3 linked regions of the Homo sapiens genome follow. The protein of the gene in region 2 purifies or fractionates together with the protein of the main gene of each other region. This does not show direct contact. Each region holds a gene or a part of one and is shown on either strand. Other genes may lie near its edges.

Region 1 (10,913 bases), on a different chromosome or scaffold from region 2:
AACATGGAGAAACCCCGTCTCTAATAAAAATACAAAATCAGCCAGGCGTGGTGGTGCATGCCTGTAATCCCAGCTACTCGGGAGGCTAAGGCAGGAGAATCGCTTCAACCCAGGAGGCAGAGGTTGCGGTCAACTGAGATCATGCCACTGCACTCCAGCCTGGGCAACAAAAGCAAAACTCCGTCTCAAATTAAAAAAAAAGAAAAAAGTTGCCATCTTCCATTTCCACTTTTTTTTCCCTCCCAAGGGATCAAACTCACATTTCACTTAGTTACCTCTCTGCAAAATGGAAGGTTTCTTTTTTTTGTTGAGACAGAGTTTCACTCTTGTTGCCCAGGCTGGAGTGCAATGGCACGATCTCAGCTCACTGCAACCTCCGCCTTCCAGGTTCAAGGGATTCTTCTGCCTCAGCCTCCCGAGTAACTGGGATTACAGGCATGTGCCACCATGCCCGGCTAATTATTTTTTTGTTTTTTGTTTTTTGTTTTTTTGAGACAGATTCTCGCTCTGTCACCCACGCTGGAGTGCAATGGCACAATCTCAGCTCACTGCAACCTCCACCTCCCGGGTTCAAGCAATTCTCCTGCCTCAGACTCAGGAGTAGCTGGGATTACAAGTGTGAGACACCGCGCCCTGCAATTTTTTGTATTTTTAGTAGAGACGGTGTTTCTCCATGTTAGTCAGGCTAGTCTTGAACTCCTGACCTCAGGTGATCTGCCCGCCTCCCAAAGTGCTGGGATTAAAGGCGTGAGCCACCGCACCCAGCCTAAATGGCAGGTTTCTAAAGACACACTTAAAAGTCAGTCCAAAGCTTTTCTAAAAATATGATAACCCAGGTCCACAGACGCAAGAGAATGACAACAAATGAATCCCTCATGAAACCTTTTGCCAATTTAGAGATCCCCAGGAATATAAAACCCACAAACACTGTTTCATCAGTAATAGTAACATGCTTCTCCCTTTTAGCCTCTAGCTTATTCACTGCACCATCATATTTCACAAACCATGATTTAGAATTTGGATTGTAAACTCAGGCCAGGCACAGTGGCACATGCCTGTAATCCTAGCACTTTGGAGGCCAAGGTGGGCAGATCGCTTGAGTTCAGGAGTTCAAAGATCAGCCTAAGCAATATGGTGAGACCTGTCTCTACTAAAAATGTAAAAAATTAGCTGGGTGTCGTAGTACACACCTATGGTCCCAGCTATTCAGAAGGCTGAGGTGGGAGGATGGCTTGACCCTGTCTCAAAAAAAAAGCTTGGATTAATATTGAAATATTGAATCTAATGAAATATTCAACATACCATGAGAGAATGGTAACAATGCATCTTTGCCTAGAAAGAATGCATGTAACAGAGCCGCACAGGGCAAATGCACTATCAAAGGCTCAATCCTTCAATTAACTTGAAATGGGCCATAGTGAATGTGTTTTCTGAGTTATAACAGCACTTTCATTTTCAAGAACAGTCTGTATGTAGTCTAACCTAGTTAATAAATACAGGATTATGTAACTTGGTAATTAACCAGGTTTCCAACTCACATCTTCAATTCAGAATGTCAAATACTGACAAAAAAAAACATAGCAATAAGACACTTTCAAGAGAGTTGATGAGCCACTTATTTTTGACAATATTTAATAATGAAACCTCAAAACAAGAAAATGAAGGAAATTCACAGCTTGATATGATGGAATCAAATAGTCAAAACTAAGCAATCTAGGGAAAAAATTAGCCTTTAAATTAGCAATTAAGAAAGATAAATTTTTCTTCTGTTAAGCCCTTTTAGTCTAAAAAGAAAAAAAAACCTCTTAGAGACAAAAATTACATTAGCTTCCACAATATAGTTCCATCCCTCCTTTTAATAAAATGGGAACATGAAAAAAATGACAGACATTTTAAAAATCACTTCACACTACTCATACAATATTGTTCAAAATGAGCAAATGTTACAAGTATTTAGAACATCCGAAGTTGCCCTGTGAACTGTATTTACATTACATGCATTACTCCAAACTTACAGCTGGTAAAAAAAAAAAACCACAAATTAAATCCCAATCAAAAAGAGGGGTTGATCGATGACAGCCCATCAACAAGTAAGTGGAAATACATGCTAATTTCAAGCTCCATTAGAAATGGAGTTGTGGCATACTTCCACATGGAGAAAAATAAGTTTGATAGTTATAAAAAAAAACTAAAGAAAATAATGAACATTTAAGGCTCTAACAGAGAAAGGGCAATGTTGACATTTTATTTTTGAAGTGTGGTTCTTTGCACACTTGGAACTTTCAATAATGGATAATTCAGTATAGTGCTCTCACAAGTGAGCAAACAGCATGAGACAAGGCAAGTCACGCTGGACTAATTCCCCACACTGTTCAGTCCATTCAATCCAGGCCCACAACATGTGGGGGACAGGGCAGATCACCAAGCAGTACATGTAATATCTTCAAGGTCTGGAAGCAGGCATACTGGTACCCAGGCAAGTTTCAGAAAGTGCTGCTCTATGAGACTCTTCCAGATGTGTTTTAACTTTTTCCTTACAGAAAACAGAAGCTGCTAATAAGACTTAAATCCTCCAACATGCATAGAATAATAACCTAAATTTCTTTAGGACTTCAAAGTGGGCCAGGCGCAGTGGGTCACGCCTGTAATCTCAGCTCTTTGGGAGGCCAAGGCAGGTGGATCACTTGAGCTCAGGAGTTTGAGACCAGCCTGGGAAACACGGTGAAACTCTGTCTCTACAGAAAACACAAAAATTAGCCAGGCATTGTGGCAGGCGCCTGTAGTCCCAGCTCCATAGGAGGCTGCGGTGAGGGGATCACTTTCAACCCGGGAGGTCAAGGCTGCAGTGAGGTGTGATTGCACCACTGCACTCCAGCCTGGATGACTGAGTGAGACCCTGTATCAACAACAACAAAAAGACCTCAAAGTGTGTGGTTTTGGTCACTTGAGAAAAAAATGATTTGGGCAGAGAAGGTAGAAAGAATAATTGGGTTCATGTTTTTCACTACTTATTTATTATCTCCATATAGAAGGCCAAACTCACCCCCAAAATTTTTTTGAGTAAATTTTTTTACCTGTTCATTTTTCCACCTTTTATGCACAATAAAATTCACTCTCTCGTATACCAATCTAAAAACAGCTGTGTGGGCCAGGTGAGTGGCTAAAGCCCGCAATCCCAGCACTTTAGGAGGCGGACGGATCATTTGAGGTCAGGAGTTCAAAACCAGCCTGGCCAAAATGGTGAAACCCCGTCTCTACTAAAAGTACAAAAATTAAACAGGTCGTGGTGACACATGCTTGCAAATCCCAGCTACTCAGGAAGCTGAGGCAGGAGAATCATTTGAACTCAGGAAGTGGAGGTTGCAGTGAGCCGAGATCATGCCACTGCACTCCAGACTGGGCGACAGGGTGAGACTCTGTCTCAAAAAAAATAAATAACAGTTGTGTGATCACCTCCACAATCAAGATACAGAGAAGTCAAATGAATTTATTTTCACAACAGCATGTACCTACAACTAATCCACAGAATATAAGAGTACAAAATATTATTTACTTAGAACACCTGCTTCAAGAGCTAAGTGGGCATCAACTTCTGAAGAGGCTGACGAAGGACTACAGTTGACAAGGCAGATCCCTAACATCCCTGACAAGGAACGTTCCTGAACAGAAATTCAGTACCAAACCCTTTCTGGATGACATCATCACCAGCATGTGGCCTTCCAGAACTTATTATATATCCAACCAGCCCGAGAGACATCTCCTCTTCTATCCAAGTTTGTGACCTGCTATTAAAACCCCCCTTTCAGCTTCATTCAACAGTCAGCCTACAGTCACACCACTTCAAGTACTCAGACAATAGATCAAGAATGTCTAAAGTGGAAAATACCCTGATGTACCACAGGTGATGATAAAGTACATTTCTGGAGAGGAATTTGGAAAAATTTTAAGAGCTATAAAAAAGTAGCATACCTTGGAAATAATCCAAACGTCCATCAACATATGAATGGATAGGTCAGACGTGGTGGCTCACGCCTGTAATCCCAGCAGTTTTCGAGGCTGAGGCAGGTGAATCATTTGAGGTCAGGAGTTAGAGACCAGCCTGGCCAATATGGTGAAACCCCGTTTCTACTAAAAATAAAGAAATTAGCCGGGTGGTAGTGGCGCACACCTGTAATCCCAGCTACTCAGGAGGCTGAGGCAGGAGAATCGTTTTGAGCTTGGGAGGCAGAGGTTGTGGTGAGCCAAGATCGCACCACTGCACTCCAGCCTGGACAACAGAGACTCTGTCCCCTCCAAAAAAAAAAGTATGAATGGATAAACAAAATATGGCATATACATACAATAAATGGAACATTATTCAGCCTTTAAAAGGAAAGAAATCCGGCTGAGCACGGTGGCTCACTCCTGCAATCCCAGCACTTTGGTAGGCCGAGGCGGGTGGATCACCTGAGGTCAGGAGTTCAAGACCAGCCTGACCAACATGGAGAAACCCCGTCTCTACTAAAAATAACAAAATTAGCCAGGCATGGTGGCGCATGCCTGTATCCCAGCTACTCAGGAGGCTGAGGCAGGAGAATCGCTTGAACCCGGGAGGCGGAGGTTGTGGTGAGCCAAGATCGCGCCATTGCACTCCAGCCTGGGCGACAAGAGTGAAACTCCATCTCATAAAAAAAAAAAAAAAAAAAAAAAAAAAAAGGAAAGAAATTCTGGGAGAGGATTCCAGATTCTAAAACAGCAGAGTAGGAAGCACCAAGATCAGTCTCCCCACCTAGACAATTACACTGGCATAATTAGTCAGATGTAATTCTGGGGACTGTTGAAGAAAGCTTGCAACTTCCAAGGAAAGACTGGGACAGTAAATTGGGTTAATTTCAGTCAATTTCAGCCCTTAGCTGAGCAGCAGCTACCCCATTCCCTAGCCCCCAGCCACGGGCAGACAACCTACAATGCATTCCTGAAACAGCTTGCAAGCAGCTTTTGGGAACCAGGATGGGTAATAAGGACCCTGTCCTCCAAATATTAGGGATCCGTATTCTAATTGCTGATTGCTGCTTATAATCAGGGATAGGCAGACACTGAGAAGGATAGCCATTATTGCACCCCCTCCATGACTGCAAGTCCTCCCCCTCCAGCTGAAGTAGACTTCCAGGAAATTTAATGGGCCAAGGGCCCCCACCTCCCTACTTCCTTCATTTTTCTCTTTTTCCTCTTTAGGAGCTAGACTTTAAAGACTAGGATATTCAAAAGCAATCATGAGGGTGCGGGGGAGATAAGGAAAAAAGTTACCATGGTGCATGCGCCCAGGGAAAGGTGCAGGCTCAAAAAAGACCTGAGAAGTCCTTAAGTTTGTATCTCAGGCTGATCCTCAGCATAAAAACAAACTGTAACAAATAAACAAAAAAATCCAGCAAACCCTGGGAATGAGAAGAGTCCAATTTTCAGAGTTAGCACATCATTAGATTCAAATGTCCAGTTTTCAAAAAAAAATTAAAAAGTCCCAGGTCATACAAAGATACAGGAAAGTATGACCCATTAAAAGAAAAAAAAAATTAACCAATAAAAACTGTCCCAGTTGCTGGGCACGGTGGCTCATGCCTGTAATCCCAGTACTTTGGGAAGCCAAGGCTGGCTGATCACCTGAGGTCAGGAGTTCAAGACCAGCCTGACCAACATGGAGAATCCCTGTCTCTACTTAAAATACAAAATTAGCCAGGTGTGGTGGCGCATGCCTGTAATCCCAGCTACTCAAGAGGCTGAGGCAGGAGAATCGCTTAAAGCCAGGAGGCAGTGCAGTGAGCCAAGATCACGCCATTGCACTCCAGTCCGGGCAACGAGAGCAAAACTCCATCTCAAAAAAAAAACAAAAACTGTCCCAGAGAAAGACCAGATGGAAGACCTACTAGACAAAGACATTAAAACAACTGTCTTACAGATGTTCAAAAAACTAAAGGAAGGTATGGGAAAAATCAAGAAAATAATGTATTTTAAAAATAAAAATATCAGCCGGGTGTGGTGGCTCACACCTGTAATCCCAGCACCTTGGGAGGCCGAGGTGGGCAGATCACGAGGTCAAGAGATCAAGACTATCCTGGCCAACATGGTGAAATGCCATCTCTACTAAAAATACAAAAATTAGCTGGGCGTGGTGGCATGTGCCTGTAGTCCAGCTATTTGCGAGGCTGAGGCAGGAGAATCACTTGAACACGGGAGGCAGAGGTTGCAGTGAGCCAAGATCGTGCCACTGCACTCCAGCCTGGTGACAGAGCGAGACTCCGTCTCAACAACAACAACAAACAAACAAAAAAAGTTAGCCGGGTGTGGTGGCAGGCGCCTGCAGTCCCAGCTACTAGGGAGGCTGAGGCAGGAGAACGGCATGAACCCGGGAGGCGGAGGTTGCAGGGAGCCAAGATCGCACCACTGCACTCCAGCCTGGGTGACAGAGCAAGACTCCATCTCAAAAAAAAATAAAAATAAATAAAATAAATAAAATTAAAATACCAGATTAGCCAGGTGTGGTGGCACATGCCTGTAATCCCAGCTACTTGGGAGGCTGAGGCAGAAGAATCACTTGAACCCAGGAGACAGAGGTTGCAGTGAGCCGACATCACGCCATTGCACTCCAGCCTGGGCAACAAGAGCAAAACTCCATCTCAAAAAAAAAAGAAATAGGAGAAAAAAAGAATATATTACACATAAGCTGAGGACTGCATGGAGAGGATTTCATCAGTGATTAGATCTGGGTGGCAAGGAAGAAGAATGGGCTGTAGATGGTTCTCAGTTTGCCCAAATTTGTTATTGGAGGCCCTCCATAATCTGACTGTTGCCTCATCTGTTATCATTCCATCCACAAGCTAGACTCCAGGCAGAAAAGACTTTTTCCTCCTTCACTCAACAAGCATCTAATTTGCCCTCCATGCCAGGTACTAAGCACCAAGACAAGAACTAAGACTCTCAGTTCCTGCCTTCAAGGAGCTTACAAGGCTCCCTTCCTAGCAGTAAAGGCAAACAGGTACATCAATAATAACGTACAGCATAATGTAATGCACCACCCAGTGCTAAAAAATTTGCTACCAGAAACGAAAGTGCTGAGTCTTAAGATATGACTAAAAGCTCATCATGAAAGGTTATGTTGGGAGAGTAGAAGGGAATCACTGAGGAAGCAACTTTACCCTAGGCCCCCAACATCCAGTCCATTTTCTTTTTTTCTGAGTCAGGGTCTCACTGTGTTGCCCAGGCTGGAGTGCAGGGGCATGATCATAGTTCACAGCAGCCTTGAACTGTTTTTAAATACTGTATGCCTCAGCGGCATTACATATATTCACGATCCATTTCCAGAACTTTTTTCATCTTCCCAAACCGAACTCTGTACCCATAACAATAGCTCCCTATTCCCCTTCACCTGGCCCCTAACAACCACCATTCTGTTTTCTTTCTTTCTCCTTCCTTCCTCCCTCCCTTCCTCCCTTTTTTTCTTTTGTTTGAGACAGGGTCTCACTCTGTCACCCAGGCTGCAGTGTGACATGATCAGAGCTCACTGCAACCTCCACCTCCCAAGCTCAAGCAATGAATCCTACCACCTCAGCCTCCTGAGTAGCTGGGACTACAGAGCGTGTCACCATGCCTGGTTGATTTTTTTTTTTTTAGAGGCGGGGTCTCATAAAGTTGCTCAGGCTGGTCTTGAACTCCTAGCTTCAAGTGATCCTCCCAACTCAGCCTCCCAAAAAAACAGGATTATAGGCATGAGCCTCCCTGTCCAGCCCCAATCCATATTTAAGTCCTGTCTCATTTCTCCAAAATACAGCTCCCTTCATCCCTACCACCTCGTACTCCACCATCTTCCTAGCTCAACTCTCTGCTTCCACATGCACACAAACACAAGCCTTCTCCAAGCACTAGCAGGAGTCTTAAAAAGGAAATCAAATCATGAAACTCCCTACAATGGCTTCTTACACCTCTAGAATAAAACCCCAACATGGCCTCTGCCTTCTCTGGCAATCTCATGTGAGGTCTTCTCCCCACTGAAAAAGTACCCAAGCTATACAAGTCTTCTCTCAAGTCTCTAAACACACGGAGTCTTTCCTGTCTCAGGACCTCTACAAATGCAGAGGGCCCTGTTCCTTCTCTCCATATTCTCACCAGCACACAACACTACCCCCAACAATCAGGGCTGTCTGTTATGCCCCACAGTGAGTTACGTTCTCAAAGAAATCCGAAAGTGCGGTGGCTCACACCTGTAATCCCAGCACTTTAGGAGGCTGAGGCGAGTGGATCACCTGAGGTCAGGAGTTAAAGACCAGACTCACCAATATGATGAAACCCCATCTCTGCTAAAAATTAAAAAATCAGGCTGGGCACGGTGGCTGAAGCCTGCAATCCCAGCACTTTGGGAGGCCGAGGTGGATCACGAGGTCAGGAGTTTGAGACCAGCCTGGCCAACATGGTGAAACCCTCTCTATCAAAAATACAAAAAAATTAGGCAGGCATGTTGGCACACACCTGTAATCCCAGCTCCTTGAGGTTGAGGCAGGAGAGTTGCTTGAACCCAGGAGGCACGGGTTGCAGTGAGCCGCAATTATGCCACTGCACTCCAGCCTGGGAGACACAGCAAGACTATCTCAAAATAAATAAATAAATAAATAAATAAATAAGCCGGGCGTGGTAGCTTGCACTTAGTAATCCCAGCTACTCCGGAGGCTGAGACAGGAGAATCGCTTGAATCCCCAGGAGGTGGAGTTTGCAGTGAACTGAGATCACCTCACTGAACCCCAGCCTGGGCAACACAGGGAGACTCCATCAAAAAAAAAAAAAAAAAAAAAAAAAAAAAAAAAAAGAAGGAAATCCCAAAACCCGGGCAGGGCAGTTACCCTGGATCTCCACATCTGGTTCATGTCTCCAGAAGAGACAGGAGTCCCACTTTGGACACCTTGAGTTTGAGAAGCCTGGGACACCCAAAAAGCTTCCCAATGCACAGGTGACCATGTGGGTCAGGAGACACACCTGCACTCAAAGGCTTGGACTTTTAGCACATAAGGCTGATGACAGAAGAGACTGCACAGAGCAGTGATTCTCATCTTGGAGGAGGGTACCTCTCATCTCTAAGTCACTATATGAAATGAGATATCACTGATGGGAGTGAAGGTGATGCCACATCAGTGGTGTGGAGGACAAAGATACTTTGGAAAGAACCCTGGGTACGAGAGGAAAGAGTGAGGGCGAGGAAAAGAAAGAAACTGAGATGAGTCAAAAGGAAAAGAAAACCAGGAGAGTGATATCACAATTCCCCAAACTCCTATGCCCTTTTATGCTTCTCATGACTTTCTCCCTTCACTTAAAAAAAACTCGACTCATGTTTCATCCAGATCAAATGCCACCACCTCCTGAAAGCCTTTCTGGACTTACCCAAGTAAAACTTATTAGCCCCCTCTCCGTGCCTCTACAAGTTTCTTTTGTTGTTACTATTAGGTAAGATTTGACTCAGACAATAGTTTCATTAGTACTGTTAAGGCACTTACTGCAGTCCGCTCTGTACTACACCTGGGGTGTGTGTCTCCCCTATTACACTGTGAGCTCTTAGGTGGATTAAAAAATTATTCTTTCGCTGAATAAATATCCAGATGGGGTCAGGCACCCTGGCTCAGGCCTGTAATCACAACACTTTGGGAGGCTGAGGCAGGAGGACCACTTGAGCCCAGGAGTTCGAGACCAGCTTGGGCAAGACAGCGAGACACCATCTCTACCAAAAATACAAAAATTAGACGGATGTGGTGGCGCGTGCCTGTAGTCCCAACTACTTCGGAAGCCGAGGTGGGGGGATCACTTGAGCCCAGGAGACAGAAGCCGCAGTGAGTCATGATCGTGTCACTGCGCTCCAGCCCGGGCGACGGAGACCCCGTCTTTAAAAAAAATGTTTGTTCAAAAGTCCAGATTGGTAAATAATTAGGCAGAAACTATAGGTAACTCCTACACTCATTCTTCATTCTTCCTGTAAAACAAAATAACACATCCTAATTAATTCGATTTATAAATTCCGTTCCTTAAAGTAACACCCACCTGTCCAGTATTTAAAAATCACTGCTGACTAAACACAAATATTCGCTCCACAAAATGCCTATCCTGTCCCAACAATGATGTAAGCATTTCCTTCATCATAAATATAAAATGCCCCGAATTTAGTCGTAGACTTGACATATCTCGCTCTTTTCCAAATAATTGTAAATTCTGTACAAAACACACGCACCAAAAAAATGTCACCAAGATGCAAGAGGACGTAAGAGGGAGTCAACCTTGGAACTGGGCCAACCGCCGCCTGCATTACTGGGAAGCCACTGCTGCCAAGCAAAGGTCAGGCATTCATTCAGGCAACATTTTTTCCAACAAGTGCTTCACACTCGCACGCACACACACGCTCCTTTAAAAGTCAACAACAATTAAAAAAAAAAAAAAACCTCTCTAATGCCACTCCTGAAAACTAGGGCTGAAAGCTAAGTGCGTCCAACCGACAAGAAACCCAGGAAAGCTGAGTAATCCCCGAGTCCAAGTGGACGGTCACGCCAAAAGTCCACACGGGTGTGGCCCACCTACGGCGAAGCTGTATGGGAGAAGCCCGGGCTCCAGCCTCCCGGTTCGCCGAGCCCGCGTCCCCGCCGCCCCATCGGGAAGTCTCAGCGGCCGGGAAGGGGGAGGGGGCAGGAACGCCTCGGAGCCGGACGACAATCACTTCCCGGGAAAGCGGCTCCCAGACAAGCCGCCCCAGGGAAGGAAGGCGGCCGAGGGGCCCGGCGCGGGGCTGCCGCGCGCGCCGAGGCCGCGGTAACAAAGTTTGGAAACCGCGAGAAAACTTTTCCAAGAGGAAACGCGGCGGCGGCGCTGGGCCTATAGTTTCTCCTCCCCAGCCCAGGCGGCCCCCCGACTTC
Region 2 (10,913 bases):
AAACCCATGTTCTTCCCATAATTTCTTTCAATCTTTGCTTATGAAACCACAATTTCTTTCAATCTTTGCTTGTGAAAGCATCCTAAATTACTCTTAATCAAGTTGAAGGATTCAAACTTTCTCTGCTAATTAGGGAACATGCTAGGTCTCAGGTGACCTCTTTTGGAAGCCAAATGACCCCTGAATAATACCCTGGTGGGTGCAGTATGGGTGGCTGGACTGTTTCTACAATCTCCTAAAAGCAAATCCTAGACCCAGCCCCTTAAATCCTTTTTGGAACAAGGCAGGCTGTAAATACATACATGAATACATAAATCTCCTGATCACTGCTTGTCCTGGTTGTTGTTTTTAAAATGAGCCCTTGATCTCAGCTGGCTTTGTTACTTAACTTTTTCTGATAATAGTTGAGCACAGCAGCAATAAAAGAAAACACACAAGAAAATCCAGTGAGTTTGAGTTTGTTACTACAAATACCACTGGACCGAAGTCACCAGCTGATGGGCACCACCATCTCCTCTGCCACTGACCACACACTGCTACTGTCTCATATAGCTTGGGGTGCAGGTATAAATCCCAGCTCTACCATTTTTAGCTGTGTGATCTTGGGCAAATCACTCCATCTCTCTAACCTCAGTTTTGTCAGCCATAAAATTAGTATGCTACTTAGTACCTACCTGACCATGTTGCTGAGGGTTTAAGGAGACAACATGTGTAAAGTCCCTAGCAGGGGAAGTTCAGGCACCTCATGGCTGGAGAAGAATCACTGAGCCTTCATGAAAAGGGTCAGGCTCAGCATTGTCACTGGGCCTTGTTGGACATGCAGTATCCCAGAAAAGGGGACACTCAGCTCAGTTTCCTAACCTACCCACAATCACCAGCTGTCTGGTCTTGTCAGCTGCAGGCTACTGAGTGGGTAAGAAGCATGGCGAGTGTGTTAGAGAAATGAATGAACTTAAAGCACTTTTTTGGTCTTGGATTGCTCTGGAGAAAAGTCTGAGAGGGCAGCAGTAAAGTTCTACCAAGAAGTCTGTAGGATCATCTTCAGATTTGGACTTTGGCCACAGCCCTTTCTCCACAATAAAAAAAAAAGAAGTCAAGGGCTGGGCATGGTGGCTCACGCCTATAATCCCAGCACTTTGGGAGGCCAAGGCAGGCAAATCACCTGAGGTCAGGAGTTCAAGACCAGCCCGGCCAACATGTTGAAGCCCTGTCTCTACTAAAACTACAAAAATTAGCCAGGCATGGTGGCATGCGCCTGTAATCCCAGCTACTCGGGAGGCTGAGGTTGTAGTGAGCCAAGATTGCACCACTGCACTCCAGCCTGGGCAACAGAGCGAGACTCCATCAAAAAAAAGAAAGAGAGAGAGAGAGAGAGGAAGGAAGGAAGGAATCAAATATGTGAACAGTGTCCACTTTCTGGGACCCAGGGGCTTGGAAATATGAGATGCATTCGGTTTCCACCCCAGAACCTCAGGGCAGCAGAGGCAATGGCTAAGAAGCAGTTCTTAACACTGCCTGTGGCTCTCCCACATCCACAGTGAGAGAGACAGGTAGCAGAGTAGAACCAGGTACAGGATGTCTGCTGGCCATTTCTTGGCATCAACATCCCCCTCCATTCCCAATCTCTATTTGTGCTTCCTGTTCGTGCACATGCGCGCACACACGTACACACAAACACATCAGAAAAGGAAGAGAAAAATAGAATAGCATGATTGCTCATTATGCAGGCCTTGGCAAGTACCTGTCTTGGTCAGAGGGAGGAATCACTCACCGGGGCTTTTTTGTCAATGGGCTTGATGACAAATTTCTTATCATTGAAAGAGATGTTCCTGATTTCACTCCAGGGGAAGCCTATCTTGGGAGTTAGTCTGTAGAAATAGAAACCAATAACATCAGGACAAGGGCAAGACAAGAAGGGTGTAGAGAACTGGGGGCTTGCCCTCACTGTCACCTCCAAGCTTCTATGTCTCTCTCTCTCTTTTTTTTTTTTTAAAATAAATAGAGACGAGGTCTCACTATGTTACCCAGGTTGGTCTTGAACTCTTGGGCTTGAGCAATCTTCCCTCCTCAGCCTCCCAAAGTGCTGGGATTACAGGCGTGAGCCACTGAGCCTGGCCAAACAAACACTTCTCTCTGGAGGAGGTAGACTCAGTGACAGCTCAGCCAGTGTCATCACACGCCACCAGGTCAGCTGCCAGCATTGAGAGTTCACTAAAGATCTCCTGATAGTACAACTAACATATGATTCCTTGTCTCAAGTTTGTTTTGTTATGTATTTGTTTGAGGCATGGAACTTGTAACAGTTCCTCAAGGGAATCCCCAGCCCTATTTAACTGAGTCTCTTCTATCCAAGCTTACAAAAGTTTGAGAGAAAGTAAATAATGAACTCCAAGATTCAGGAGTTATATGGAACAATAATTTATTGCTCTCCATCCTCACCAAGAGCACACCAAGTGAAAAATATAAGCAAGTGGGATAAGGCTACAGTGAGAGGATTATAGGCCAAAAGCCACTTAACCATCACAGGAGACTAATTACAAATGCTGATAAGATAGTCTAGGCCTGCACGATCCAATAAAAACATAATGACTGTCACATATATAATTTTAAGTTTTCTAGTAGCCACATGAAAATAAGTAAAAAGAAATGGATGTAATAAAATTATAGTAAGTTTAGTTAACCCAATATATCTAAAATATTATCATTTAAACATGTAAATAAATATTTTTTAAAATATTAAGACATTTTACGTTCTGTTTTTCACACTAAGTCTTCAAAGTCCAGTGTGTAGTTTACACTTACAGCAGCACATCTCAATTCAAAGTAGCCACATTTCAAGTGTTCAATAGCCCCATGTGGCTGGTGGCTACCATAGTTGACAGTGTGAGTCTAGTCAATACAGGATTTAGTATTGACTAAGGGAAGTTGTGAAATCATCTGGGCTGGACTAAATTAGGTAGAAAAAGAACTGAGATGGGACCCAAGAGATATGGCCCTGCTCCTTGGTGAAAAGTGAGCCCTAGATGTTAACGTGACCTAAATAAACTAAAAGAGATCTGAGATATACCTGTCATTCTGCTCATAGATGTTGAGACCCAGGGCATCCACCCCCAGCCACAGCTCTGAGCCTTTCTTGTTCTTGATGCTGAAGTAGTTCACACCATACATCTCCAGATCTTGAGCAATCTTCAGATATTCCAGGACAGCATCCTCCCTAAATGACACAGAGTTGGGGGTCACAAAGTGGGGCTTGTGAGTCAGACCCAAGGAGATAGAAAGCCTGCTTACTCTGTACTTCTGACAAGGATCTTGCTATCAGGAGTGGGAAAGGGGACAAAAGGCAAGCAGATGATGGAGAACAGAGCACAGCATGACTTTTGCAAAGCAAAATCTCCTAACAAAAACCTAGGGTCTAAGCTCCCAAGGGGAATAAAGATGGGCTGACCCTTGCTGGCCTCTGGCATGTTGGCTGCCATAGAAGCAATTTTCTTTCTCTCATTCATTGTGACAGCCTCTTATAAAGGCACATTCTTAGCAGGGCTCAGAATGTGGTGATGGCAAAATGATGATATTTGTCCTTCAACTACACAACCCTCAAAAATGCTTTGCCATGTGTAAGAGCTCCCTCCATTTCTTGATAGTCAAAACTGTTTGGGCTACCAGTTACCAGCATTCAGCAAAACAAACAAACAAGCAAACAAAAAACAGCCTTATAATGGTCCTAGTTTGCCTTCTATCGTCCCTGTTCCCTCTTTCTCCAACATCCACCAATGTCCCTTGTCATCAGTCTCTTCTCCCTAGAACGCATTCTCATTCACCCTGTAAGGGAAGTGGGGCCCACCACTGCTTGGGCAAGCTTACCTGAGCATGCCACGGTGTTCCTCATGCCACACCTGGATCCGCTCCTCCCACTGGTCCTTGTTGAGTTTGTGCTGTTCCAGGACTCTGGAAAGACAATGGGTGATGAGTAGTTTAAAGCACAAAGTCCCTGTGCAGGAGAGAAGGGAAGCCCATTTAGCTTTCTAAGGGGCTGATGCAAAGAGGATGTAGAGTCAGCCAATTGAGGTCACACTGGAAGCAGACCGAAATTATAGCAAGAAGGTGTTAAACTAGACACAAGGAATTGCCTGAAAGGTAAGAGAGCTACAAGAATGGATGATCAAAAACAACAAGGGGAACACCTTCCTTTGTACCTTCATCCACAAATCAAATGATGTGCTGTGGTCCCTAAGCATAGCAGTAATGTGTCAGGAGTTTGTGCTGACTTTAGGGGCTAACAGTAGGGATGGACCTCATGGAGTCAGGTACACTCTCTCCTAGATCCTCTTAGGACCAACACTCTATGTTTATAAGAATACTGCTCAGAAATGAAAGGATGGCCTTTGGCTACAGAGCAATGAACTGAGTCCTAATGGCTTTCAGAAAAACCAACAGGCCCAACCTCCAAGACCTACTAGATTATAAACAAGGTTTGCTTTAAACATGCCATCTCAGATATCATGGCAATGACTCAGGTAGAGTCCCCAGGGTACAAGCACTATCCCTAATATCTTATGGGTGTGTTGTACATATATGCCATAACTCCAATGGGACTGAGGCTCCCAGAATGAAGCAAAGCTTTTCCTTCTAATCCAAAAGACTATGGAAATGGCCATTGGGTATAGTAGGAAAAAACTTAGTGTTAAAATATTAAGGTGCTAAGCTTCCAGGTCTGGCTCTGGCTCTGCCTCAGATGAGCTGCACCAGATGGGGAAAGTCAGTGTGAGTACCTCTGCACCTCTATTTCCTTCGCCAGGAAATAAGGATATTGCCTGCTTTGTTCATTTTGTGTGTTATTGTGATACAAAAACAAAAATAATGAGTGTTTTAGAGCTTTTGACTTTGAAGTTTACAAAAGGGGAAAGCTCTGTACACTAGCTGTCAATATTAAAAGACTATTTGAGCTCCCCATGTCCTCGGTTTGCTTATTTCTCTCTCTCCCCTGTGAACTTCTGATATAAGAGATCTAAATCAGTAAAAAGAACTGAGAAAATGGAACCAGGGATGGGTGAAAGAAATTACTCAATCTCTGGTTCTATATAAGCACCTGCCTCCAGGGTAATAAAGTTCTGTAACCAGGTAGACAGAGGGAAAACAAAAAGGCTTTTTATTTGGAAAGCCAGAAAAACAACAACAGAGTCTGACACTATATGCAAATGTCTCTTGAGCAGCATAACACAGTCTTCAGACAGACCCCAATGGAGAAGAACAGATCTGGCATCCCTGTGAGGCAGGGATTGGTCAGCTGTGGGCTGCAGCCCCTTATGGCCAAGGCAAAGGAGGGCAGGGAACCACCTCACCTCTGCGGGAGCAACTTGTCTCCGGCCAGGTAGCCAGACTTATGCACTTCCTTATTGAAGTCGCCATACTTAGACTGGACAGCATACGAGGCCAGCAGCACAGCGGTCTCAGGCGGGCAGTAAATATCATCATTGAGAATGCCCTCTTTCACTTGCAGAAAGAACAGGCGCTGAGTGATGTCCTGAATCAATTCCTCGGACACATCCTCAGGGTAGAACTTGGCACGGAACTTAAAGAGCAGGGGGCTTTCCTTCCGCACATCCTGGGCAGTCACCTGGGAAGAGTAAGGGTTATGGACTCTCAAAAAATAGGTTTTAAGGGTAATGGAGTGGCTGTAGGGTGGGGAGAAAACACTGAAAGATCATCAATTTGCATAATCTTAGACAGCTGGGTGGCAACTCCCCTGGTAATTAAGAAAAATAATACATTACTTTCACTGGGGACTGAATCCCATGTCTGTAATCACTTTCTGTTGGGAATTTCTTCCTGAAATTACCTTAATACCGACTGATGATCAGAAATCTTCAAACCACTTTTATCTGACTATATCCAACTATCCCCAAATTCTGATAGTAGGCATAAGCTCTTCTTTTAAGCTCGTCTTATAAGTCTCCTCCAACTTCATAAATTAGCAAAGTAAGGACTAGGATATATGTCTGAGGACTGAGAACTGGCTAAACAAGAGCACAAATTAGACCATTTTTTAAAGCCTGAAATGGAATACTAGTGGCTCCACACTTGTCCAGCAAAAGACTCAACTCTTTAGGAAAACAAGACTCTACCAGCAGAAGGTGGGGTACCTACTCCCTAGACACAATCAGAGAAGCAAACTGCAGGACAGTATGGAGACTTCTAAGGACAAGGCCAGCCAGTTTGAGGATACGAAGATGGAAGGCTGCCAGGTTCCCGTGAAGATGCTGCTTGGGGTGGAGAGCTTGCATGGACTCAAACCATCCCATTTGGGGTCCAACTGAGGTAAAAGATCAAGAAAGAGGGAAACATCTATATGGGGTTCAGACATTAGTTGACTGCTGGAGAAGGTGCAGCATAAGACTGTAAGATCTTTCAGATTTTTTTTTTTCTAGTTCAAGAATCTGTGGCTCTTTTTAACAAATCCCCAGCCAAGCTCAGTAGCTCATGCCTGTAATCCCAGCACTTTGGGAGGCCGAGGCGGGCGGATCACAAGGTCAGGAGATCGAGACCATCCTGGCTAAAACGGTGAAACCCCGTCTCTACTAAAAATACAAAAAATTAGCCGGGCGTGGTGGCAGGCACCTGTAATCCCAGCTACTCGAGAGGCTGAAGCAGGAGAATGGCGTGAACCCAGGAGGCGGAGCTTGCAGTGAGCCGAGATGGCACCACTGCACTCCAGCCTGGGCGAGAGTGCGAGACTCCGTCAAAAACAAAACAAAACAAAAACAAACAAACAAAAAAAACACAAATCCCCTAAAGCCATTGAGTTTGGAGAGATGAAGGGGATACCAATCCTCTCTTGAAAAGCCACTAATGGATTTGATCCAAAACAAGTCAAAGTTCAAGCTAGTGTTCCCATTAGAAAGAAAAGAGTCTCTTCTTCTTTGAATGCTGGCCATTGTCGCTGTTAGAAGTCAAAGTAGAGACAGAGCAAGAGCTTTGCCTTGCTTGTGTCCTCGGTCCTTATTCTGATCCAAGTGGTCAACAGACCACCCAGTCACAAACACAGCCCTAGGTATCCAGGATTTGCCAACTAGCACATGGTACCCTCCCAGGAATGTTCTGGAAAAGAAAAGAATTCTAAATCCAACAGAGGAATAAGCAGTTACCTTCTTATTGAGTTTCAGCCAGGTGGAGAAACCTTTAGTGTCCTGGTACTGCAGACCAAAGAACCAAACTTCCCTCAAGCCAATAGTTTTCACCACCTAGAAGAGAAAACCAAAACAACCAACCATTGATTGAATACTTCCTCTGTGTGAGGCACAGAGGACACAAAGTTTGAAGTCAATATTATATCTGCCCTTAAAGGGTTTAAGGTGCTCAGCATCTGGCAAGAAAATATACTTGAGCAGCAATCAAGAACTGATGTCGGCATCTCTCTGCACAAAGTACTGCTGAGGCAGGAAAGGGATCTATTACTTATGAGCACTGACACATACCAAGAACCTTACATCCATCATCTCCTTTAATTTTCATAATACCCCTATGCTAGACTTACAATTAGGCCCATTTTATAGATATCAAAAATGAGGTTCAAATAAATGAAATAACTTGCCCAAGTTTCAGGTTGTGAGTGACAGAATTAGGGTTCAAACCAGGTCTGTTTGACTCCAAATCCATGCATATCCAGTGATTTCTGCCACCTCCTCCTTCCCTCTACAATGTCACACCACTTCCCACTTCCATGATGGATTAAAGGCTGAAGGTGGAGATTGTTGGATTAACTCCTGTATCTTGTTCTCTTGGGCCACTCCCATATATTGTCCTTCATCCTTAGCAACTGGGGGTAATACCCACACCCTTAAGACTGAGTTCCATTTACAATACCCCAAATAAAGAATGTTTGAGAAGATAAAACGGGGATTGTGAAGGACTCTGAAGCCATGCTGTGCCTGGGTTCTGAGAGGATTTTTTCCAACCCTGATCAGAGCCAAGTCATGATTCCTCTTACACAGGTTTAGGGTGGAAATGAGGGTAGAAATAGGGTAAGTACCTCAGTGTAGCAGCTGAGGTGCCCCCTGTTGTCCTGAGCCTCCTGGCTGAACAGTGGGCAGGAAAAGGAGGCTTGCCAAGAGAACACAGATGAGCTCTGTTCTCTAGTCCCTGACATTAGCATGTTAATAGTCTGGCCCTCAGCTCAACCCCAGCATACCCACCACTGTCGATGGCAGCAGTGAAGCTGAGCCACATCCTAATGAGGTCAGGCTGGCCTTAGGCAGTCTTTTTTATTTTGTTTTTTGGGAGAAGGATGCAAGTGGAGGGTAAGGGTAAGGTGAGAAAGAATCATAGAAATATACCTGGAGATGGAAGCAGGGAACAAGGACCCAGTTTTGCTGATGTCCTTCCCTTATGAACAAATTAATATCTCCCTTCAAAATACACACACACACATGCACACACACACTCACTCACAAAGACACACATACACACACTAACACTGTATCCACAAAGTTTCTATTATGCATCCAAAGTCAGGCCCCACAGTCACACCCAGAGTTTACAATCTAGAGCTTCAGAGACCCCAAAGAAAAAAGTAGCTCATATTTATTAAGCACCAATCATGTGTCAGGCGCTGAACAGTAAACAACCCTGTGAGATAGCAATTATACCCATATTATAGATGAGGAACTAAGGCTTAGAGAGGTAATGCATCTAAAATTACAGAGCCATATAGAACCATGATGTGTCTGACTATAGAGCTTGTACCTTTTCTTCTCTAGCATGCTATGTCCTAATGCCAAGTACTCATATGAGCTTACGACTCCTGAGCTTCTCAAGTGATTAATTGCCTTGTCTCTCCTTTGGCCCAAATTTCCCATCCAGGTAATAAACTTTGATCACTTCTGCATCGAGATATGCTTCCTGGCATTCCCACTAGACCCAAGCGACAACCACTTTGGGGAGAAGCCATGTCCCCCAAGTCATCGACCTTCATTGCTCACCAGGTCACCCTTCCCCTTCATAGCTTGGATCAAGTATCAGGAAACCTGAGCAAAATGTTCATGTCTGTCTCCAACTAGCTGTATGATATCAAGGTAGCATATTTCCTCTCTGGGCCTCGCCTTCCTTATCTATCCAAATTGGGGAGTATGGCTTCAATGATCTCTTTTTTCTCTTAAGTTCTATCATTGTACTAATTACATTACAAGGTTATTTTGCAAATGGTTAATAAAAACAATCCCATTTCCCAGCTACCTCTTGCTGATGTGGATAATTAGAAACATGTTTAGAAAAGATCAGTGGGGGTGGGAGGTAATGAGGAAAGTTCAAAAGGCTTCCAGAATTCAATGGCCAGTTGATTCCCTGACTCTAAGTCAATAGGCAGCTGGAACTGCCAGAAAGTTTCAGATGGAGAAATGTGAATGCTTATGTTGAAATGTAATATTGGCTTTTTGCAGAGGATGAAGGTAGTGGGTGGGCGTGAACAGAAAAGATTTTTTTAAAGCACCTTGTATATCATCCTAGATCTAAACAGGGCCCAAGGCCCAATTAACAGTTCTAATCATTTTCCACAGGGTTGCAGAAGAATAGTGTGTCCAGATGCAATTGGTGGGAAAAGGCAAGATCCAAGAAACAATCCAGCTGAGAGAGAGAGAAAAAAAAAGAGAGAGAGAGAGAAGACCCACTGAAGATGCTGAAGAGAAGAAGATGGACCATGAGGGCCAGGATATTAGGTCATGGGGGGAGAACAGACTTGGAACAGAAGTAGTAGAGCAGTGCTATGGTTTGGATGTGGTTTGTCCCCACCAAAACTCATGTTGATGCTTCATTGCCGGTGTGGCAGTGCTGGGAGGTAGAATCATTAAGAGGTAGTATGTAATGAGAGGTGTTTCAGTCATGGGGACCCCTGTCCCTGTGAATTACTTGACCTTTTGTCACATTATGAAACAGCACAAAGGCCCTCACCAGAGGCTGAGCAGGTGCTGGTGCCATGCTCTTGGACTTTACAGCCACTACAATTAGGAGACAAATAAGCCTCTTTTCTGTATAAAGTAACTAGCTCCAGGTATTTTATTATAAGAACATAAAATGGGCTGGGCGTGTTGGCTCACGCTTATAATCCCAGCACTTTGGGAGGCTGAGATGGGCAGATCATGAGGTCAGGAGATCGAGACCATCCTGACTAACATGGTGAAACCTGGTCTCTACTAAAAATACAAAAAAATTAGCCGGGCATGGTGGTGCGTGCCTATAGTCCCAGCTACTCGGGAGGCTGAGGCAGAAGAATAGCTTGAACCTGGGAGGTGGAGGATGCAGTGAGCTGAGATTGCACCACTGCACTCCAGTATGGGTGACAGAACAAGACACTGTCAAAAACAAACAAACAAACAAACAAACAAAAACAAAACAAAACAAACATAAAATGGACTCAGACAAGCAGCAACTGGTCTTTGCCTGTACTAACAGACTAATTGTAGAGGCTAAGAGACTCCAAGACTGAAAGGAAGTGAGGTAGGCACAGACTATGCAGCCAGTCCCAGAAATCCCAGGAGTGAGACCGTTAGCCTCTTTTTGCACCACGTTGTCTGTTTCACTATTGGGTGGGAGTAGGGGTGTGATAAGAGAAGGAGGATTAGCCAGGTGTGGTGGCTCATGCCTATAATGCCAGCACTTTGGGAGGCCAAGACAGGTGGATCACCTGAGGTCAGGAGTTCAAGACCAGCCTGACCAACATGGTGAAACCCCGTCTCTACTAAAAATAGAAAATTAGCTGGGTGTGGTGGCACATGCCTGTAATCCCAGCTACTTGGGAGACTGAGGCAGGAGAATCGCTTGAACCCAGGAAGCAGAGGTTGCAGTGAGCCGAGATCGCGCCATTGCACTCCAGCCTGGGCAACAAGAGTGAAACTCTGTCTCAAAAAAAAAAAAAAGAGAGAGAG
Region 3 (10,913 bases), about 50 Mb from region 2:
AACTCCTGACCTCAAGTGATCCTCCTGCCTCAGCCTACCAAAGCGCTGGGATTACAGGCATGAGCCACCGTGCCCGGCCTCCCTTGCATTTTAATATAGAGAGAAGACTGCAAGTTTCCCTCTCTGGGGACTCACCCTGCAGAACTCAAAAAATCTATAAATTGTAAAAATAATAAGAGATAATCATATTGAACTAACTAAGATTTGAATTTTGCATGGAAAGAAGCATGGCTTTCTTTCTGTAGAAAAAAATTTATTAGGGCAGTATTATGAACATCTAATATGTTAGAGCCAGGCATAGTGGCTCGCACCTGTAATCCCAGGTACTTGGAGGCTGAGGTTGGAGGATCCCTTGAGCCCAGGAGTTCGAGGCTGCAGTGATTCGAGCTACGATTTGGGCCTCTGTACTGCAGCCCAGGCGAGAGTTAGACCCTGTCTCTAAAAAATAACAAAATAAAAAATAAAATGTTAAAGTCTAAATCTAGATTTTACCAAATGAGATTTTTCCTAATGAGTCACAGACTATAGCCTACCTAATCTTTCTCTCGCCACTATACTGCCAGCACCAAATATAGTGTCTGGCTCATTGTTGAGGCACTCGGTAAACATTTGGTGAATGAAAGAATCTCATGCTCAACTAATTTTACTGTTTTGTGGAAAAGACTCATTTCCAATGCAGGATTTTATCTGTCTTTAAAATATATTCAATAAAGTTCCACCCCCCACTTTTTTTTTTTTCTTTGAGACAGGGTCTTGCTGTGCAGTGATTCAATCATGGCTCACTACCGCCATGACCTCTTGGGCTCAATCAGTCCTCCCACTTCAGTCTCCAAAGTAGCTAGGACTACAAGCATGCGCCACTATGCCTAGCTAATTTTTTTTTTAACTTTTTGCAGAGATGGGGTTTCACCATCTTGCTTAGGCTAGACTTGAACTCTTGAGCTCAAGCAATCTGCCTGCCTTGGCCTCCCAAATTGCTAGGGTTACAGGCGTGAGCCACACTGTACCTGGCCCAAGTTTTGTTTTCAATATCCAAGTTATTTTCTTTCATAAAAGAATGAGAAAAAATTAAAAAAAATTGAAAGAGAAAGCATGCTACAATCCTCTGCTCAGAGATACCCAACTACTATGCACATATTTTGGTCTTTTTGGGTTTTTTTTTTTTTAACGGCATCTTGCTGTGTTGTCCAGGATGAAGTGCAGTGGCATGATCTCCGCTCACTTCAACCTCCGCCTCCCAGGTTCAGGCAATTCTCCTGCCGCAGTCTCCCGACTAGCTGGGACTACAGGTGTGTGCCACCACGCTGTGCTAATTTTTGTATTTTTAGTAGAGACGGGGTTTTCCCATGTTGGCCAGGCTGTTTTCCAACTCCTGACCTCAGATGATCCACCTGCCTTGGCCTCCCAAAGTGTGGGATTACAGGCGTGAGCCACCATGCCTGGCCAGGGTTTTATTTATTTATTTATTTATTTATTTTTCTTTTGAGACGGGGTCTTGCTCTGTTGCCCAGGCTGGAGTGGAATGGTGTGATCGTAGCTCACTCTAACTTTGAACTCCTGGGCTCAAGCTGTCCTCTTTCCTCAGCCTCCTGGGTAACCTGTACTACAGGCACATGCCACCATGCCCGGCTAATTTTTTTATCGTTTTTGTAGAGACAGGGTCTCACTATATTGCCCAGGCTGGTCTGGAACTCCTGGCCTCAAGCAGTCCTCCTGCCTCAGCCTCCCAAAGTGCTGGGATTATAGACATCAGCCACCACATCAGGCCTTGGCCTTTTTTATTTTTAGTTTTTATTTTCCATATGTGTAGTTTATTATGATCAACATGATAAAAGTCATCTAGCTGCATTTTTTAGAGTACATGAAAGAGATGTTATAGTAAGCTTTAAAATATTTGTAAATATTTACAGCCACTTTATAAAAGGAAATCAGCTCTTTTTTTTTACATCAGCCTTTTTTTAAATTTTTGTTTCAGTAAAATGATTAACCTTTCAGTTCCTGATACCATTGATGAAAGAGCAATCAACAAGAAGAAACTTACACCCTTCATCATTCAGGTATGCATTGTTCTCCCCTCCCTTTAACATGAAATTACTGTTTGAGGACCTGTTCTGCAGACTTCAGCCTCTGCACTCTGTAGGCTCCCAATCAATCCTTGTAAAAACTGTTGAGTGTGGGATTGTTATCCAGATTATACAGACAGAACTGGGACTCAGAAAGGTTTCTGAGCTTGCCTGAGATTAATGTTGGAACTGAGGTTCAAATCCCATTCTAATTTCAAAGCCCCATGTTCTTTTCATTTCATAATGTGTTCAAGCACTACAGAGATAAGCAGAAGTATATAAGCTCTTAATTAACTGGCGTGCTTAAGAAATGGAGCATTTTTTTTTCTATCAAGTGAATATTAGATTATTAGCAAAATTCCCTCAGAGAAGAGCACCTCTTGGGATGTGGACATTGATAACTTCTAAAACTCTTTTGGGCATATGCAGTACTGTTGGTCTCTCACCCATTTAGGCATTTTTGGAATTATAACACTTTACTCACATGGATATATTTACTGTGGTACTCAGCCTTTTCATTTAGTGCCAGCATACTTCAAAAGGTACCAAATAAAAATACAAAGTTAACTTCTCATGAGATTCTGCAAAAGGCAATAGCAATAAGGCTGAAATTTGTCTTAGCTAGGCTTTCTAACACAAAACTCTGGAATTTGTTTTTTGTGACACATATATGGATGAAATTAATACAGGGTATTAATTTCCTCATTGAATGTTATTTTCAGTGAAGGGAGAAAGTAGACTGCTAAAAAATGGAAAGGTCAAGAAGCAAGTGTGTAATTTGGCTGTCTTGCAGGAAAACTTGAACTTGGCACTGAACTCTGCTTCTGCCATTGGGTGTCATGTTGTGAACATTGGTGCAGAAGATTTGAGGGCTGGGAAACCTCATCTGGTTTTGGGACTGCTTTGGCAGATCATTAAGATCGGTTTGTTCGCTGACATTGAATTAAGCAGGAATGAAGGTAATGGAACACAGTCATTCTGGCAGTTGTTTATTGGTTATTTTTTTCTAGTCATGCAGACTTTCGTGCTCTCACTTAATGGAGGTGATTAAATGGTGGTAACTAGAATGAACATAAGGTAATGCTATAGAGTTATTCAGGAAAATAGCCTAATTACATGACTCTCTTCTTTACTAGTAATTCACATTTGTCTGGCACTTTACAATTCATTTTGCAATAATGACACAAAAGCACAGAGAGATTAAGGAGCTTTCCTGAAGTCCTCAAACTTGATTATCTATTTTTTTCTGTTCTGCCTACACAACTTCTACCCCGTTGCCACCCTCAGCTCCACCATTTTGCACCATCTTCTTTTTTGGAGACAGGGTCTCACTCTGTCACCCAGGCTGGAGCGCAGTGGCACAATCAGCCTGGCTAACATGGTGAAACCCCGTTTCTACTAAAAATACAAAAAATTAGCCAGGCGAGGTGGCACGTGCCTGTAGTCCCAGCTTCTCCGGAGGCTGAGGCAGGAGAATTGCTTGAACCCGGAAGGCGGAGGTTGCAGTGAGCTGAGATTGTGCCATTGCACTCCAGCCTGGGCGAAAGAGTGAGACTCTGTCTCAAAAAAAAAAAAAAAAAAAGAAAGAAAGAAAAAAAAAGAGAGAAAATGTAAGATTGCAACCGGGTGTGTTGGACCATGCCTGTAATCCCAGCACTTTGGGAGGCCGAGACAGGTGGATCACTTGAGGCCAGGAGTTGGAGACCACCCTGGCTAACATGGCGGAACCCCGTCTCTACAAACAATAGAAAAGTTACCTGGGCGTGGTGGCATGTGCCTGTAGTCCCAGCTAGTCAGGAGGCTGAGGCAGGAGAATCGCTTGAACCTGGGAGGCAGAGGTTGCAGCGAGCCGAGATCATGGAGGCAGAGGTTGCAGTGAGCCGAGATCACGCCACTGCACTCCAGCCTGGTCAATAGTGCGAGACTCTCTCAAAAGAAAGAAAAGAAAAAGAAAATATAAGGATGAATTATATTTCTGTTAAAATAGGATTGAGCCTTCAAGAGTTAATTGATTAATTTTACTTAAATACAAATACCACCGTGTTTCTAGACTACTTTAATCAAAAGGTTAAGTAAAAGATTCCCAAATTGTAAACATCTTTCCCCCAAATCCCTGACTTTTTTTTTTTTTTTTTTTGAGACGGAGTCTCGCTCTGTTGCCCAGGCTGGAGTGCAGTGGTGCGATCTTAGCTCACTGCAAGCTCCACCTCCCGGGTTCACGCCATTCTCCTGCCTCAGCCTCCCAAGTAGCTGGGACTACAGGCGCCCGCCACCACGCCCGGCTAATTTTTTGAATTTTTAGTAGAGATGGGGTTTCAGCGTGTTAGCCAGGATGGTCTTGATCTCCTGACCTCGTGATCCGCCCGCCTCGGCCTCCCAAAGTGCTGGGATTACAGGCGTGAGCCACTGCACCCAGACCCAAATCCTTGACTTTAGAAGTGTTAAATAAGAACAACTTATACAAACATATGACATAATGTGAAGCTTGCATTAAGCTTAAAGGCCATAACCTCATTTGGTATTTGAAATGTGAAGAATAACAGAGAAAAGAATAAATTGTAGTATTATGTTATTATATCTGTTATATATTTATCTTTTTTAGTAGATTATGAGTATCTTGAAACTAGGAACTATGTCATAGTAGTTTTTGCACCTCTATTACTTAACAGTGTCAAAAGACTGAATGAACTTGGCATGACCATTATTGTGTCATATAATAACTGTGGGATTTTTTTTTTTTTCTTCTAGCCTTGGCTGCTTTACTCCGAGATGGTGAGACTTTGGAGGAACTTATGAAATTGTCTCCAGAAGAGCTTCTGCTTAGATGGGCAAACTTTCATTTGGAAAACTCGGGCTGGCAAAAAATTAACAACTTTAGTGCTGACATCAAGGTAACTGTTGAAAGAATCACAACATTTTGGGGGGATATAATAGCTGGAAGATTTCATCCCAGCTTAACAGAGAGAAAATCCTAACACTGTATCACCAAGCCTTGTTGTCTCTTGGCCCTGAAGGTAGATTTTAGAAGAGTAATAGAGCCAGATAAGGTACATTAGCACCTATGTTTTATTTTGTGGGAAAAGGTAAAAATATTATGCTAATTTATCATATTATAATGCTAATTTGTTATATCCTGCCTATTGGTAAACATGGAGTATTAAAGAATAGGACATGACTATTCTATTCTTAACTGCCTTTCCCAAGCCTCAGTGTACCTGTTAGTAAACACACCTAGAAGAGATAGGAAGGGCCTCATGATTTCCTCTTCACCTTTTTTATTTGGCTTCTCTCCTGTCATTTTATCCTACCTTTAGTTGTGAGTTCCTCGAGGATAGCAATGAGCTCTTATTTATGTCTGTGTATCCTACCTCAGCCCCTGCTCCAGGGCCCTCCTACTAAAGCCAACTTAAAACATAGTATGTGGCATATACAAGTCCCTCATATTTCTTGCATTGAATTGAATTTTTTTTTCACTCACTGTTTATCATGAGCAGTGGGGGAAAACTAACAATGGAGGAAGACATTTATTACATGTTGCCTTTGGCTTCTCATGCAGAGGGCCAACATTACCATAGCAAACATTGTGTGGAGTTCTCCTTAACTGCCTCAATTCTGTGTGACATCCAGATGTTGGTACACAGGGAATAAACTTAAGGATCTTCATCAGATGTCACTGACCAGCAAGGCTGTGAAAACAATACTATGTGATGATATGATTTTGTTCAGTGATGAGAGGAAGCAGTGAGTTGCCTGTACTACTGATTTCATCCATGAAAATTAAGAGTAGCCCCAAAATTATAAGACCAACTGACCCTGCCCTCTCTTTTAATTACACAATATGTTTGGCCAGGTTTGTTGTTGTTGCTGTTGTTGTTGTGACAGGGTCTCACTTCGTCACCCAGGCTGGAGTGCAGTGCTGCTAACATGGCTCACTGCAGCCTTTACCTCCCAAGCTCAAGCAATCTTCCCACTTCAGCCTCCCAAGTAGCTGGGACTACAGGTGCACACCACCAAGCCCGATTGATTTTTTTTTCTTTTTCTGAGATGGAGTCTCCCTCTGTCACTCAGGCTGGAGTGCAGTGGCACTATCTCGGCTCACTGCAACCTCCGCCTCCCAGGTTCAAGAGATTCTTCTGCCTCAGCCTCCTGAGTAGCTGGAATTACAGGCATCCACCACCACGCCTGGTTAATTTTTGTATTTTTAGGAGAGACAGGGTTTCACCATCTTGGTCAGACTGGTCTCAAACTCCTGACCTCATGATCTGCCCACCTCGGCTTCCCAAAGTGCTGGGATTACAGGCATGAGCCACTGTGCCCGGCCTGATTTTTTTATTATTTGTAGAGATGGGGTCTCACTGTGTTGCCCAGGCTGGACTCAAGCTCCTGGGCTCAAGTGATCCTCCCACCTCGGCCTCCTAAAATGCTGGGATTACAGGCATGAGCCATGGTACCTGGCCAGCCAGGTATATTTTGCTTCATGCACTAGATGCGTTCCTGAAAATCAGCAAGCCAACCATAAATGGATTTTATGTAGTGGGATATATTTTAAATGTAAAGAGAAAATCTTATTTTTGTAAATGAAGCCTGCTTTGAATTTTTTTATTTTTTATTTTTTAAATTATTTTTTGTTTATTTTTTTTTTTGAGATGGAGTCTTGCTCTGTCGCCCAGGCTGGAGTGCAGTGGCGCCATCTCGGCTCACTGCAAGCTCCACCTCCCAGGTTCACGCCATTCTCCTGCCTCAGCCTCCTGAGTAGCTAGGACTACAGGCACCCGCCACCATGCCTGGCTAATTTTTTTTGTATTTTTAGTAGACATGGGGTTTCACCGTGTTAGCCAGGATGGTCTCGATCTCCTGACCTCGTGATCTGCCTACCTCGGCCTCCCAAAGTGCTGGGATTACAGGCATGAGTCACCGCCCCCGGCCATCAATATTTTTAAAAAGGAAATAATTGTTTGGTAATGTGAAAACTAACTTCCAGTTTATCTGTATTCAAGTTCAAATTTTCACCTGTAAAGCCCTTTTCAGGGTAGTAAATACAGATTTTGCTGGGTCTGCTCTTTACTTGTTCTTCTCAAGAGCATAGGTTTATTATAAATTGTTTGTGTAGCTTTAGCAAGTAATTGGAAGTGAAAGCACTTTCGCAATTGTAGTACACTATTCCTTAAGAGGTAAATGCTATGCCCCCAAATGATAGAATCGGAGTTGGCATTTTATGAATTGCTCTGAAATAGCTTTCAATTACCTGATTTTCCCCATTCTTAGAATCATTTATGGCACCAAGTTTCAAACTCACCTGGGTAACTGGTTTAAAAGGCACCTTTCTGGGCAGCTCCCAGACATTTATATTTGGTAGCTCAGGAATTGGATTCAGTAATTCACATATTGAGTAACTTCCTCAGGGGTTAGTATGCACATAGACTATGAGAAACACTCCTTCATAGCCTGTCTGGACCTTCAAAGCCCAGTAACAGGAAACTATTAATATCGTAGCTGGAAGGTGGTCTTCACATATGGCAGGATTAAGGAATCTTGACTCAAATTCCGGTCCTCTAGCATTCCAAAGATGCAGGAATTTACTTGACACGTGTGTAAAGGTTCTTAATAAGCGTTTGTGCAAGTACAATAGTTTTCAAGCTGTGTTTTGTGGAGTTGTCCACACAACCTGAATTCATGTTGACTGTGAGCCAACCCCATTGTTTTATGTATTGGGATTCTAAGAAAACAACATTCAAGTGATTTAGTCCAGGGGTTTAAAACGAAAAGAGACCTTTGTTTTGTTAAGTACATTCAGATCATAGAGGGTTCAGTGTTATTTTAGCAACTAAAATGTTTACCATTTAATGCTTTTGTCATTTAAATTTACAATTAAATACATCTTTAACATAGCTAATCTCTTCTTCGTAGGTTGTGGTATATGCATTGTGCTTTGTAATGATATAACCTGTTTATTTTCTCTTTCTTCTATGCTTCCTGGATTTCTGCTCTCCTACTTTTTTAAATGCTTGTTTTGTCTGTCAAGCTTATTGACTTCAGTAATTCAGTGAAGGTACAGAACTGGTTATATGTTTATTAGCATTATTGTATTGATGACTTTAATAATTGCGAAGTCATGTCAAAATCCAGTTCATCCATATGCAAGACAGATATAAGGCAGATAGATGGACTTTTCTGGGGAAAACACCTGTTAAATTAAAAGGCAGAGATTTGTGCCATTTATTCTCAAAAAATCCAATGCAAATAGCCTTCCAAACATGGGACAATAGGATACATTCATTCCTTGTAACTGTGATCTCACTGACATTTTCAATTCTTTGTAGGATTCCAAAGCCTATTTCCATCTTCTCAATCAAATCGCACCAAAAGGACAAAAGGAAGGTGAACCACGGATAGATATTAACATGTCAGGTTTCAATGTAAGTATAAGTGCTCTTTTGAATTCTACAATCTTGCAAAATTATTGTCAATTTCTTATAAGTACAATAATTTTTATAATCGTATGAAGTAGAGTTGGCAATTTTAAGCATTATTTTAAAATGTATTACTGTACATGTAATTCAGAGGCCAGAAAACTAGCTTTGATTTATTTTGATTGTTAGTGAATTCCATCGTTGTTGTGGTATTGATTTATATGGATGGCATAAAATATTCAAAACAAGTATGGGGAAATAAGTAACTAGAAGCTAACCTTTTCCAAGTATTTGGATTACAACCACAGTAATAGATTTAGTGACTATATGAAAACCTTTTCCAAGTATTTGGATTATAACCACAGTAATAGATTTAGTGACTATATATTCATATTCCTGTGTTGAGAGTAATGTGATTATGTTTTACAAACTCCCAATCTATGAAATCTAATTTAGGGAATTACTCTCAGAGACCATGTTCCCTGGTTATGTCACTAATTTGTTTAGTGACATTGGACAAGTTCCTTCTCAAAATTGGATTTCACTTTGTTCATCCATAAAGTAAGGAGTTAGAGTGAACTATTTAGTCCCAAGTTTCTAGGAATCTGTGGTTTTTGTACCCATTAGATATGGAATGCATGCTACTAATTAACAAAATCCACATATCTAGCCTATTATGCCATAGGATGGAGTGGATTACATTGGCTAAACCATTTTTCTTCTCTTTCTTTTTTTTTTTTTTTTTTTTGAGACAGAGTCTCACTCTGTTGCTGAGGCTGGAGTGCAGTGGCACCGTGTCGGCTCACTGCAACCTCCATCTCCTGGGTTCAAGCAATTCTCCTGCCTCAGCCTCCCGAGTAGCTGCGATTACAGGCGCCCACCACCATGCCCAGCTAGTTTTATATTTTTAGTAGAGATGGGGTTTCACCATGTTGGCCAGGCTGGTCTTGAACTCCTGACCTCAGGTGATCCACTCGCCTCGGCCTCCCAAAGTGCTGGGATTACAGGTGTGAGCCACCGTGCCTTACGTGGCTAAACCATTTTTATGCTGCCCTTATCAGAACTGAATTTGTAACTGACTTGTGTGCTTATATTTCTGTCTGTATGTTAAATGCAAAACTCTTCAGCTCAGGTCACTCTTGGTAGGGATGAGGGGCCATCTTGTCCAAGAAGGGAGCTGTCTGGGTTGGCTAGCCATGTGATCTGATACCAGGGTAAATGGCATCAGTATGCTAACCGATTCTGATACACCCCTTCTCTAGTCAATCCTTTCCAATTGATCTTAAAACACTCTTTTGTCTCTTCCCTCTTCAGAATCCGACAAGGATTCTTCTGTTGACTCTAGAATTCAGTCTGAAATGTTCTGCTTGGCACTCACCCTACAAATCTTGCTCTAAAATCTAGCCAGTGTTATTTCCCCAAAAGTCTGTGTTCCCCACCCCAACCTTCCTTCCCACCACCACCCAGGTGCCTTTGCTCATGCTGTTCTCATGGTTTTCAGTGTCCTTCATCTTTTTCAGCTTTACACCTTCTTTAGGGTCTTTTTTTTTTTTTTTTTTTTTTAAGAGACGAGGTTTCGCCATGTTGGCCAGGCTGGTTTCGAACTCCTGGGCTCAAGCAATCCTTCTGCCTCGGCCTCCCAAAGTGCTGGGATTACAGGCGTGAGCCACCACGTCCAACCAAGGCCTAATTTTAACTCTGAACAGTTTTACCTGTTTTTTATTTCAATTTAACTTTTTTCTCTTCGTCTTTGTAATGGAAAAAATCCCTTCCTTTCGTCCTAACTTTTTTAATCCTTCAATTCCCTGAGATTAATCCTTGGTCTTGCCTTCCACCATTCTCCCTACGCTCAAAAGAAATCAGTGGAAATAGATTCTCTGCTTCTCTTCAATTCAAGCAACAGTTCACAAGCATTTCCCTTGGGATTTGAGCATGACATGAATGAAGGTGTCTGTCTTCTCCCTCAGCCAGGGAAGCCTACTTCCACAGCTCAGCACAACTTCCTCTCTCTCTAGCTCGCTCTCCAGCAGTGCCCTCCTTTCTAGTTCCTTCTGCTGCATAACACAGCCCCAGAGGTTCCAGGGTTCCAAGGAGTCCACTCTGTCATGAAGCTCATTGACTTAATGCACAGTACCCAGAAGCCTCAGTGAAGTTCAGCTGAGAGCCAGTAGAAAAAAGGAGAAACTCCAAAGCAGAAAGTAGTAAATCAGCAAAATAAAATAAAATAAGCCAGGTTGAAGAGAATGAACCCACAATTTACAGAAAATGAACACCATTTTCTAAAGGAGACTTAAGTAGGACTACAGTTAATACCCTTTCACATTTAATAATTAATTGAGATTCATTGTAGATAAAGTACATTTGAAAAAAAATTTTAACATAATTCTACTGAAAATATCTGAATATTTAACTTGAGGTGGCTTAAAAGGACAATTGAAGC

The links.
Region 1: the proteins of MSN (region 2) and CTNNA1 purify together in Homo sapiens (co-immunoprecipitation; 2 studies listed by BioGRID and IntAct, with this or other methods). This does not show direct contact.
Region 3: the proteins of MSN (region 2) and PLS3 fractionate together in Homo sapiens (co-fractionation; 2 studies listed by BioGRID). This does not show direct contact.

Annotation. Positions count from the first base shown.
Region 1 is NC_000005.10:138,753,763-138,764,675, reverse strand, and holds part of CTNNA1 (catenin alpha-1), read right to left. Parts: exon of another isoform or gene 10,578-10,913; intron 9,983-10,577; exon of another isoform or gene 9,513-9,982; intron 1-9,512. UniProt on the Homo sapiens protein: Associates with the cytoplasmic domain of a variety of cadherins. The association of catenins to cadherins produces a complex which is linked to the actin filament network, and which seems to be of primary importance for cadherins cell-adhesion properties.
Region 2 is NC_000023.11:65,724,139-65,735,051, reverse strand, and holds part of MSN (moesin), read right to left. Parts: intron 7,239-10,913; coding exon 7,143-7,238; intron 5,615-7,142; coding exon 5,340-5,614; intron 3,946-5,339; coding exon 3,862-3,945; intron 3,215-3,861; coding exon 3,068-3,214; intron 1,869-3,067; coding exon 1,772-1,868; intron 1-1,771. UniProt on the Homo sapiens protein: Ezrin-radixin-moesin (ERM) family protein that connects the actin cytoskeleton to the plasma membrane and thereby regulates the structure and function of specific domains of the cell cortex.
Region 3 is NC_000023.11:115,632,025-115,642,937, forward strand, and holds part of PLS3 (plastin-3), read left to right. Parts: intron 1-1,975; coding exon 1,976-2,057; intron 2,058-2,856; coding exon 2,857-3,022; intron 3,023-4,811; coding exon 4,812-4,954; intron 4,955-8,085; coding exon of another isoform or gene 8,086-8,112; intron 8,113-8,383; coding exon 8,384-8,479; intron 8,480-10,913. UniProt on the Homo sapiens protein: Actin-bundling protein.